Regions from separate parts of the Homo sapiens genome. Here region 2 is linked to region 1. The links come from fine-mapping of genetic effects on gene expression. A gene starts in region 1. The other region holds a variant in brackets. All regions are shown on one strand. Distances are between the middles of the regions.

The links. PIP is the estimated chance that this variant, and not a neighbour inherited with it, causes the effect.
Region 2: its variant is fine-mapped to the expression of TCTA in blood mononuclear cells (TOPMed, PIP above 0.99).

The regions. Positions count from the first base shown.
Region 1 is chr3:49,409,792-49,415,162 of GRCh38, forward strand. TCTA (T cell leukemia translocation altered) reads left to right here and starts at 2,632. Exons shown (of 3, transcript NM_022171.3): 1 at 2,632-2,849; 2 at 3,265-3,319; 3 at 5,029-5,371. The coding sequence starts at 2,636. The coding sequence ends at 5,071. It overlaps RHOA (ras homolog family member A), which reads right to left and starts at 2,185. Exons shown (of 5, transcript NM_001664.4): 1 at 2,029-2,185. RefSeq lists enhancers at 1,332-2,306, 2,205-2,499, 2,435-2,844 and silencers at 1,625-1,714, 1,725-2,004, 2,065-2,364.
Region 2 is chr3:48,552,247-48,557,617 of GRCh38, forward strand. PFKFB4 (6-phosphofructo-2-kinase/fructose-2,6-biphosphatase 4) reads right to left here and starts at 4,557. Exons shown (of 14, transcript NM_004567.4): 1 at 4,435-4,557. The coding sequence starts at 4,531. RefSeq lists enhancers at 1-175, 176-837, 4,960-5,049, 5,180-5,269. The variant C/T (reference allele first, on the strand shown) is at 2,275.

The DNA.
Region 1 (5,371 bases):
CCACCACATGCATGTGCACAGGGAATTGTTTACTTGATACACGCAGTACCCCAAATCAACAGTCAAAAGTGCCCACAGTTAACTAAAAATATCTTAGCCTGACCTAAATATCTTGGTTTTGAAGCAGTAAAGTGTAGGCCTTGCTCTAGAAGTTGGTCCCTTAAAAAAAAATCCAAACAAAGCCATGATTAGGCCAACCAGGGACCCTCGTACATTCATCTATCTCCCTCAATTGAAGGCAGGACCATCCAGTTAACAAGGGGAGAGTGCTGTGTAAGCTAATGAACCGAAATTTTTTGGCAAATGAACAGTTTCTCCCAAACTATTCACCATCAACAAGGTTTAAAAGAAGAAACAATGGAATAAGCTAGAAGTCCTGAATTTTAGCTGACTCTGGAGGCCAACTGCTTGGGAGTAAATGGAGAATACCTTAACAGAGCAGACAGTTCTGGTCTGCTCCTGACTAGATAGGTAACCTTGGGAAATTTACTTAAGTCTCTGGGACTCAGTTTGCTCATCTGCAAATGGGGTTGGACAACCAGTCCTGAAAGATTCCTCTTAGATCTAAAACTCAAGAACTACACAGTATTCCTACTCTCTTCTTCCCTCCAACACAGATTTTTATGAGAACAGAGAGGATAAATCTAGCACTAGACTTTAACTCAAACCAAGGTGCACCTTATATATTTAATGTCCCCAAGAGCCATCAGTGCTCCACAAAAGTAGATGGAACCAATTAAGACAAGTTATCCAGAGATCCTTCAATAAGTCATTCTTTACAATTAAAAACTAGTTTTTCAGTCCAATGTCACTTGTGCCAAATGCTCAAAACAGTATCTCCGCCAATCTAGCCACATCTAAGGTGACAATCATCCGCATGGTACACATTACACATCTGGGTGATACTAAGTGGTTGAAAAATTCTCTCCACATACAACATTTTAAATTATGGAAGTTTTTTGGTTTTTCAATTTTTCTCCTTCAGAAAGGCAGAGTGAAATATCTACTTACACACCTGCAAGAAACGTTTAAGACTTTCTTCAAGACAGAACCAAACAAGTCAACAACAGAGGTAAAAATTTAAAATCAGAACTATTAAAAAACACAAGTGGAACCAACTTTGAGGTAAAAAGGATTCCAATTTTCCACCGTAAACTACTAAACAAGGTTTGTGAACAAATCAACTTGGATGCGAATAGCGCTATTCAATGAAGACGACCCGTAACTGTAGATCCAATCAGTAACTAAGGTACAGATATTTAGATCATTCCTAATCAATACAGCGACTTCGACTAAGCAACATTGCATCTATTTTCATGCAACATCGCTTAAATCATTTACAGTTTTGTGTGTTGTTTTTTTTTTCCAAATGGAAAATACCCCTTTTCCACTCAAAACAGACCCCAAAGCTTTCAGACGAGTTCGGGCGCGTTCCAGGTGGTATGGCCGTAGATCATACCCCTAAGCGTTCAATACAATCTTTTACTTACTTACACAGTCTCCAACAAGTCTGCATTAAAAGAAAACCTACCCAAAGTGTAACTGGACTTTAATCAATATGAAACAGTGATTGTCGTTTCTCGTTAAACGTAAAAAGCAAAATGGAGTTGTAAAGAGTTTCTTTCCCATTTCAACTCCGACAGCCACGCGCGCTTTCAGCGGCCGGCTACACTGCGCGGTCGCGGGGCCCGGCCCAAAGCCCCCGCCCTGCCCGGCGCCGCTGGGAGAGGAAGCTCCGGGGACCGAGGGCGGGCAGGCGGGCAGCCTGGGCTCCACCAGGCCCGGCCGGGCGGGGGAAGGGGCACAGGAGACTACCGGGCGCGCTTCCGGGGACTGCGCGGGCGGGGTCGCCGCTTGGGGCGCGGGGCCCGGGCTGGGAGTCAGGTCAAGGGTCAGGGGCCAGGGGCGGCTCGGCCACGAGCAGCCGGTGGGGCGCGGCCGCGGCGGTGCGGCGGCCTGCCGGCCGGAAGAGTACCGGGCTGGCGGGCCTGGGGCCCCGCGGCGCCTGGAGGGAACCCTTCCGCTCACCTCAGGCAACGAATCCGAGTCCAGCCTCTTCGCGCCGGGGACGCCGGTCCGCGAGTCGCAAACTCGGAGACGAAGGCGGGTAGCTGAAGACCAGACCGTGGACTAACGAGAGAACCGACGGAGGACCGCGGGCGGCGGGAGGGTAGCGCGAGAGAGCGAGGGCGGGCGGCGGCGGGAGGGCGGGGAACGACGTGCGCGCCTCCGAGTGCCCAGCGGGCTCGAGCCGGCACAGGTCGCGGCCCCGCGCACGCGCGCGCACTCACAGCTCATCCACTATTGCTCAGGAGCCCGTCCACGCCCTAAAAGCAAAACCCTTAACCAATCATTGCAGCCGCGTGGGGCATCACGGGAACTCCGGGGCTATAAAAGACCTGGTTGCTATTTTGTACTCCCGGAGTCACTCATCCCTTAAGCAAGCAGGGTGGGGTTAGGTGCGCGTGCGCGGTTTTAATACTCCTCCCCGAACTGCCAACTCTTCACGCACGCGAAGTAGGCCCCACCCTGGCTGGGTTTACGCGTGCGCACTAACGGGCCTGGTCCCGGAAGACCACACGCGTGCGTGGTGGGGACTACGGTGACAGTACCCCGGGTGGGGCGAGGGCCAGTCATGGCGGAGTCCTGGTCTGGGCAGGCCTTGCAGGCTCTGCCGGCCACGGTGCTGGGCGCGCTGGGCAGCGAGTTCTTGCGGGAGTGGGAGGCGCAGGACATGCGCGTGACCCTCTTCAAGCTGCTGCTGCTGTGGTTGGTGTTAAGTCTCCTGGGCATCCAGCTGGCGTGGGGGTTCTACGGGAATACAGTGACCGGGTTGTATCACCGTCCAGGTGAGGCTTCCTACGAACCTCCGTGGGCTGGCCGCCCCCGCCCCCACCCTCTCCCGACTGTACCATTGGGTTCCCCACTATCCTGCAAGAGGCTCATCAGAACTTAACATTGGTTCACGGCCTTACTACCCTGAACGCATCTGACCTCGGAAGCTAAGCCAGGTACTTGGATGGGAGAACTTAACGTTGTGCCCTGACTCATGCCACCATACCATTTTACGCCAGAATCCCCACCAGTCCACCCATCACATTGTATCTGTTCCTCAGAACTCTCACCTGGCAATACCATTAGTCCCTTAGGACCCTCACCAGACTTCACCAAACAATACCAGTGGTCTCTAACCTGACCTGGGCTGATGCCTGCTCAGATTCCCACCCCAGCCTTCTGCAGCTCTGGATGTGTTTCTGCCTCCAGGTCTGGGTGGTCAGAATGGATCCACGCCTGATGGCTCCACGCATTTCCCTTCGTGGTGAGTAAATCTGTCCATACCGCAACCCCATGCTTGGCATTCCAAGGACACTCCTGTGCTGGTGACAGAGAGGGGAGTTCTCAGGCTTTAAGCCCACCAGCTTAATGGCCTTTGCAGCAAGCTTCAAGTCTGCACGTAGAGCTCAGGCTTCAAGTTAGGGTGACACCAAGGTCTGGACAGTCCATCATCATGCTGTTCAGCAGCCTGTAGGATAGGTGGTGGTATTGTCATAATTTCAGAGAGATGAAATGACAGGTTTGTTGGATTCCACTCTGCACAATCCCCTCAGTTGGGAAGGCAGTAATCTCTGTCCTGAGCACATTGACCTCATCAGGGTCAGCCTCCTCTTCTGCAAAACATGCGCTCACTAATCAGGGCATTCATTCAGATAATCTCTGGGCCCCTATCACGTGATAGGGGCCACACGAGGCCCAGAGAACAAAGACAACCCGGGCCCTGCTCATGGGGAGCCAGGGATTTATTAGGGGAGGGCGGCAGTGCATGGGGCAAGGGTGGTCAGGGAAGGCTTCTCCCAAGAAAGACACCTAAGCCGAGATCAAATGCCACAGGGTGACAAAGTGTACCAAGCAAAGGGAATGGATTGAGCAAGGCTAAGAGGGAAGAATACGGGTGACATATTAGAATAGGTAAGACTGTGATGCTGGAGCTTGAACGTGAGAGCTTGTTGGACCCTGGGAGCCATTGAAAGACTAACTCAGCAAGGCTGTGGTCTGATCTAATTTGCCTTTATAAATGCCTACTTCATGGCAAGTAGATAAAGGGGTCCAAGAGTTAGGGCTAGAGGTTAGAAAGGCTGCCACTGCCCAGGTTTCTGTCTTAGAGAAGAGGCCAGGCCCCATGGCTCATGCCTGTAATCCCAGCACTTTGGGAGGCTGAGATGGGCGGATCACTTGAGGTCAGGAGTTTGAGACTAGCCTGGCCAACATAGGGAAACCCCGTCTTTACTAAAAATAGAAAAAATTAGCTGGGCATGGTGGCATACGCCTGTAATCCCAGCTACTCGGGAGGCTGAGGCATGAGAATCACTTGAACCCAGGAGGCAGAGGTTGCAGTGAGCCCAGATCACGCCACTGCACTCCAGACTGGGCATCAGAGTGAGACTCTGTCTCAAAAAAAATAACAGGCCGGGCATGGTGGCTCACGCCTGTTCCTAGCACTTTGGGAGACTGAGGAGGGTAGATCACCTGAGGCCAGGAGTTTGAGACCAGCCTGGCCAACATGGCGAAACCCCGTCTTCACTAAAAATACAAAAACTAGCTGGGTGTGGTGGCGGGCGCCTGTAATCCCAGCTACTTGGGAGGCTGAGGCAGGAAAATTGCTTGAACCCGGGAGGTGGAGGCTGCAGTGAGCTGAGATCTTGCCATTGCACCCCAACCTGGGCAACAAGAGTGAAACTCCGTCTCAAAAAAAGAAAAGTAATAACAATAGTAATAAATAAAAAGAATAAAAAAACTAGAGAAGGATGGCAATGCCGTACTAACATGGAGAACCAGGAAGAAGAATGAGTCTGCAGGGAGAAGGTGCTGGGCCCAGGGTGGGCTGTGGGAGACCAGCAGAGAGGTCTAGATTGTTATGTGACCTTACTGAGCCTAGCTCAGCCCCCAAGAAGGAGCTTGGGAGAGCCAATTTCAGCAACTGTTCTGCCCATGGAATAACCACTCTCTCTTCTCTCTCTCCATCACTTTCAGGGAAATGGCAGCAAACGAACCTCTCAAAACCCACAGAGAATAAGGGAAGGCAGCAGAGGGTCTCCAAGGGCATCACTGGGTCTGCTGGCTTCTACACTGGGTTCTGCTACTCCCCAGACCTCAGGGACAACTGCCGGGGGTTCAGGGTTGGTAGCAGGGAGTACCCAGTGCCTACAGGGCTGGGCCTCTTCTGCCTCTTAAGCCTGCTCCCTCACCCAGGCACTGGGCAAGTGAAGAGTTTGCCTGTACTCTTATCTGGGTGCCTTAAGGAGAGAGATTGTGTTCTTCCTCTCTCAGGGGTGATAACTCAGGAAGCCTCTGGGTTGGGAAGACCATCAGTTCT
Region 2 (5,371 bases), 860 kb before region 1:
CTGGCGGATACTGAGCTAAAGCCATAGGTGTACCTCGGCACCGACTGCCCTTGGGACTCAGGGCATGGAGGCGGTGGCCTGGCCCCAGGCAGGCCCTGCAGAGAAACAAAGGGCCTTGCTTGCCAGTGGGGGCTCCATCACTCCTGTGCATTCCCCTTGTTTAAAGGTGACCCAAATGGTGAGCCTCAGGGGCGGGAAGGAGGAGACCCCATGAAACAGGCTGACTGAGTGAGAGTGGAGAAACTTGCAGAGAACTCTCAGTATTAGCTAAGGTGAGAGGAAAACAAGTTAGGCAAGGCCTTGCCTCCTCAGGGCCGGTGGACAGCTGAGGCCCGCATTGTGCATTGTTTGCATAGTTCCCGGCCAGGTGGCCGGGCTCTCAAGCAACCAAGGGCAGTGCGACAGCTGCTAAGCAGGAGGAAATCCTGCATCTACCCTGCTCCCGCTGATGGGGCCACCCCCCAACTGCTCCTTCAGGGACTCCCAAAACCTCAGGACTGGGGATCTGCACCCCCTCTCCACATCTCCTATTTTCCCAGAGACAGCTCCAGCCTCCTCCCATGGCATTTGGTGGCATTTCCCTTCCCGCCTTCCACCCACATGCGCAGCACAAGGTGGGCAGGCAGGGCAGCAAATCAGGCCTGGGTGCAAAACAAGGCAATAAATTACCTATCTCCTCTGCTCCCCAAGATAAGCTCCCAAGGAAATGACCCAAAAGAAAACCAAAGTTCAAGTGTATCACAACAGCTCTGCTTACCATAGCAAAACACTGGGAAATTCCAGCCATAAGAAATTGCCAACTGAGGCACAACAAGGAGGGAACACATTGCAGCTCTCAAAACAGAGCACGTGGACTAAGCGGGCTGGGTGCACGGCTGCACCTGTGGCTCTGAGCCCACAGGACCCTGACACTGAGCAAACAGGATGGTAGAATACACTGTTTATAGCTGGGCGTGATGGCACATGCCTGTAATCCCAGCACTTTGGGAGGCCGAGGCAGGCAGATCACCTGAGGTCAGGAGTTCGAGACCAGCTTGGCCAACATGGTGAAACCCTGTCTCTACTAAAAATACAAAAATTAGCCGGGTGTGGTGGTGCACACCTGTAATCCCAGCTACTCGGGAAGCTGAGACAGGAGAATTGCTTTAACACAGGAGGCAGAGGTTGCAGTGAGCCAAGATTGTGCCACTGCACTCCAGCCTGGGGGACAAAGCAAGACTGTCTCCAAAAAAAAAAAAGAACACACTGTTTATAACATTGAGCATGTGCGGAAGGAAATGTGAAGACATGTCAGCCCAACTTCCCTCATGGGTTCCTTTCCTGTAAATTCGCTGCAGGCCCCATGAGCTCTAGGAGCGAAGGGGCCCAAGGGGCCTGAGACGTGCCTGGCAATGGGCAGTGTCTATGTTCCATTACTTCTACCCAAGGAGCAGCCACAAGTCCCTGGAGGGGGTGCCAGAATTGACTCCTGAACTGCAACTGCTCTCACCTCCTTAGGCCAGGCTAGGGAAGGAAGAGCTCTTTAAAATAAAGTAACGTGCCATGGAGGCCCTTTTCAGAGGGGACTGAAAGTCATCTCTCCTGTTGCCCTGTGCACACACCAGTCATGTCCTTACCCAGGAAGAGTCTTGCCACCTTTCAGCTGAGAAAAGCCATCAAACACCGTCCTTTCTGCAGTCCTTCTTGAGTCAGCTCTTGCCCCACCTGCCCTCAGAGTTCCTCCAGGTCTGAGCTCGGAGGCCAATGATGGGAAAGGTAAAAGCCTCCCAAGCCCTCAGGTGTGGCTTTAAATTTTATCAAGCGGGGGCGTGCCTGTGGGAGTGGAGGAGGTGCAGTACATCCCTCAGTCCACCAGCCCCTAGTGCCCTGAGGAGCTGGGGACTAGACTCCAGAGAAAACCCAGTACAAAGCACAGACCAGCAGTGGGTCCTGCTTCTTCCTCCCCACAAAGCCCTGGGACCAAATCCGCTTCCATCCCCACCCACACCCTCCGGGTCCAGACTGTCCTTGCAGTCACTCAACCTACAAGTCTACTATGCAAAGGGTAAAGTGTTGCCCAAATGCAGGCACTGGGAGCTGGAGGTGCTGCATGGGCGGGTTCCATGTTCATTCACTGCTTACCCACTCCCTGCTGTGAACCCTGAGGCCCAAATCCCCAAACAACCTGCAGGTCTCATCTTTGGCCTCTCAGGTGCTACCTCCTCCTCCAGGAAAAAGTGCGGACCTAGAACCCAGCCTACCCCAACACCCTGAGACACCGTGATGGCACGAGCC[C/T]CTCAGCTCAGGCCAGAGCCACATTTCAGTTCCACACTTAGAGCCTGGAGAAACACAAGCCCTGCCTCAGGAGCTATGAGACCTTCCCATTGGGCCTCAGCTTCCTCTCACCTGTAACGGGGGTTGGCTTGGAGCTGATGCATCAATCCCTGACTCAGACGTAGTGAGAAGCAAAGAAAGAATGGTAGTGATGACAGAATACCCTGCCTCCGCTTATTGAGGACCTACTCCTTAAAGGCTCACAGACTTGGCTAGGCATGGCAGCTCATGCCTGTAATCCCAACACTTTGGGAGGCCAAGGGGGGCAGATCATTAGAGATAACGAATTCAAGACGAGCCTGGCCAACATGGTGAAACTCCATCCTACTAAAAATACAAAATTAGCCGGCCATGGTGGCGCATACCTGTAATCCCAGCAACTTGGAAGGCTGAGGCAGGAGAATTGCTTGAACCCAGGAGGTAGAGGTTGCAGTGAGCTGAGATAGGACCACTGCACTACAACCTGGGCAACAAGAGTGAAACTCCGTCTCAAAAAAAAAAAAAAAAAAAAAGTCCAGGTCCTCACTCCTTTCCCCTATGTAGTAATAGCAGCCACCCCCCTAAGTCAGGACCACACAGCCCTAATAACACAGACTGGCTCAGCCTCCCCGCCTCCAGAAGAGTCTCAAAGGAGGGGTGGCCATAGCCCTCAGGACTGAGTGTGCATTATAGACAGCACAGCCCCACCAGGACCTACATCACAATCAAAGCCATGAGTTACCACGACTTGGTCTGGTCAGAAACATGGCCTTCCCCTGCCAGGACTCACAGTGTGGCCAGAAATACACACACCCTTCCCCCAGGACTCATATCATGATCAAAGCCATGGCTCCAGGCTGCTGCAGCAGGATGAGCACAAAGAACTCTCCCCTTGCTTATCATACATAAGCAGAGGCAGGATCACAGGGAGACCCAGGCATGTCACTCAATCTCCTGATCTCCATTTCACTGTCTGTTAAACTAGATGTTCTCTGAGGTGCTGGACAAGCTGCAAATTCATTACAATGTTTCAGTTACTCCTAAAACAAATCTTTCTTTTCCTGGTAATAAAAAAGTTGCAGGCCAGGACCCACGCCTGTAATCTCAACACTTCGGAAGGCCGAGGCCAGAGGATCCACTTGAAGCCATGAGTTGGAGACCAGCCCAGACAACATAGCAAGACCCTGTCTCTACAAAAAAAAAGAAAAAAGAAAAAAAAAAGCTGGGTGTGGTGGCGCACCTATAATCCCAGCTAATCGGGAGGTTGAGGTGGGAGGATTGCTTGAGCCCAGAAGGTCGTGGCTGCAGTGAACTATGATCGCGCCACTGCACTTGCTCCAGCTTGGGCCACTGAGCGAGACTCATCTCTTAAAAAAAAAAAAAACTGCCAGCTCATTTAAGGACAGGCAGAAACTCAAGGAAGCGGTTTAAACACCTGGGACCCTAGGAGAGGTGAGCCCCTTAACAATTCCATGAATTTCAGCATTCTCCTAGCTGTTTCACTCTCCAGTTTTACTGTACACCCATGACCCCAGGTGGATACTTACATGTCCCGGGACACAGACACAGGCCCACACGGCATACTTTTCTGTCTCTATCCTGAGCACATCTCTGCTGAAGTTCCTGCCCAAGCTCAGCTTTAAGGCCAAGAGGCACCCTTCCTCCTGTTGGAAAACTAGCCCACCTTTGAAAGTTCTGGGCTCAGAGAGGCCAAGTAATTCACCTAGGGCCACACAGCTCAGTTCCAGTCCAACAACCCGGCCCACACTCCTTGGCCAGGAGAGAGGGAAGGGCCTGGGGTGCCCACAGGGTCCTCCCCAGACTGGGGGCGATGGGGATTGGAGAGGGAAGCGAGGGGGCCAGAGCCCTCCCCGAGGTGATGGTGGCCAGACCTAGCCACCGCCAAGCCGATATGCCCCCACACACCTGTCCCCGCCCCCTGCTCTGCCACACCTGTCTCTGGCCCACCACTGTCACGACCGCCTCACCTGTCCCCAGCAGCCTCCCCAGTCACGGCAACCTCACCTGTCCCCGGTTCCCCATCTGTCTCCCGCCCCTTCTCCATGCGAGACCCCCGCCCAGGCCGCCCTACCCACCCATCCCGGTGCACCTCCCACCTCCTCCCAGAGGACCCCGCCTCACCACCGCGCTGGCAAGCGTGCAGAGCGGGCCGCCCATTGCTGTATGGCATCCAGATCTTCTTCAGGGGGTTCTGTGTCAATTCCCGTGGGGACGCCATCCCGGGGCCGGGATGAGTCGGACTGCGCCGCTTCCAACCCAGCAGCCGGGCCACCTCGGGCCACCCGAGGTCCCGCCCCTTGGGCCCCGCCCCTCCTCAAGCCGCGACAGCCCATGTCTATCTTCCCGCAGGTCCCGCCCCAGAGTGAGTAGGCTCCGCCCCAGCTGAAAGGGGCCCGGCCTCCGACCACGCATGCCCAACTCACCTACCCGCCCGTTTTGGAACAAGTGGGCCCAGTTCTTCAGGCCAGGATCGAGAATGCGCATGCTCAACTCCGGATTGTACTGGTCCCGCCCCAGTTCAAGGCCCGGATTGTGCAGGCCCGCCCCGGATGCGCAAACTCAGCTCTCCCAACCTGCCCGCGCTGATTTGCATAGGCCCCACCTACGGGCTCCGCCCTGGCGCTGCATCCCTGAGCAGCGGCACGCGTGAATTCTGCTACCTCCTTGCTAGGGAGCCCAGGGCCCCCAGGAGGGAGGGGTTTTCATGCAGTGGGACGAGGCCTACGTGACCCGCACGGCCAGGTTGGTCAGAGCCGACAGGGGCCAGTAGGCCTGCAGTCCCAGCCGTCAACTCCGCTGCGCCCTCCTGCCCCTCCTCGGGGTCCCCCTTGACTGCTCCGAGCCCCGGGACTCTTCCGCCGTCCATAGGAGCATGCTCAACCACGCTGGAAAAGCTCTTTTACCTCATGGATAGAGACTCAAAACACATTTCAATATTGTTCCTCTTTCTTTGCTTTGGCTGCTGGGAGCAAATGCGTGGGACTTTTTTTTTTTGAGACGGAGTTTCGCTCCTGTTGCCCAGGCTGGAGTGCAATGGCGCTATCTTGGCTCACTGCAA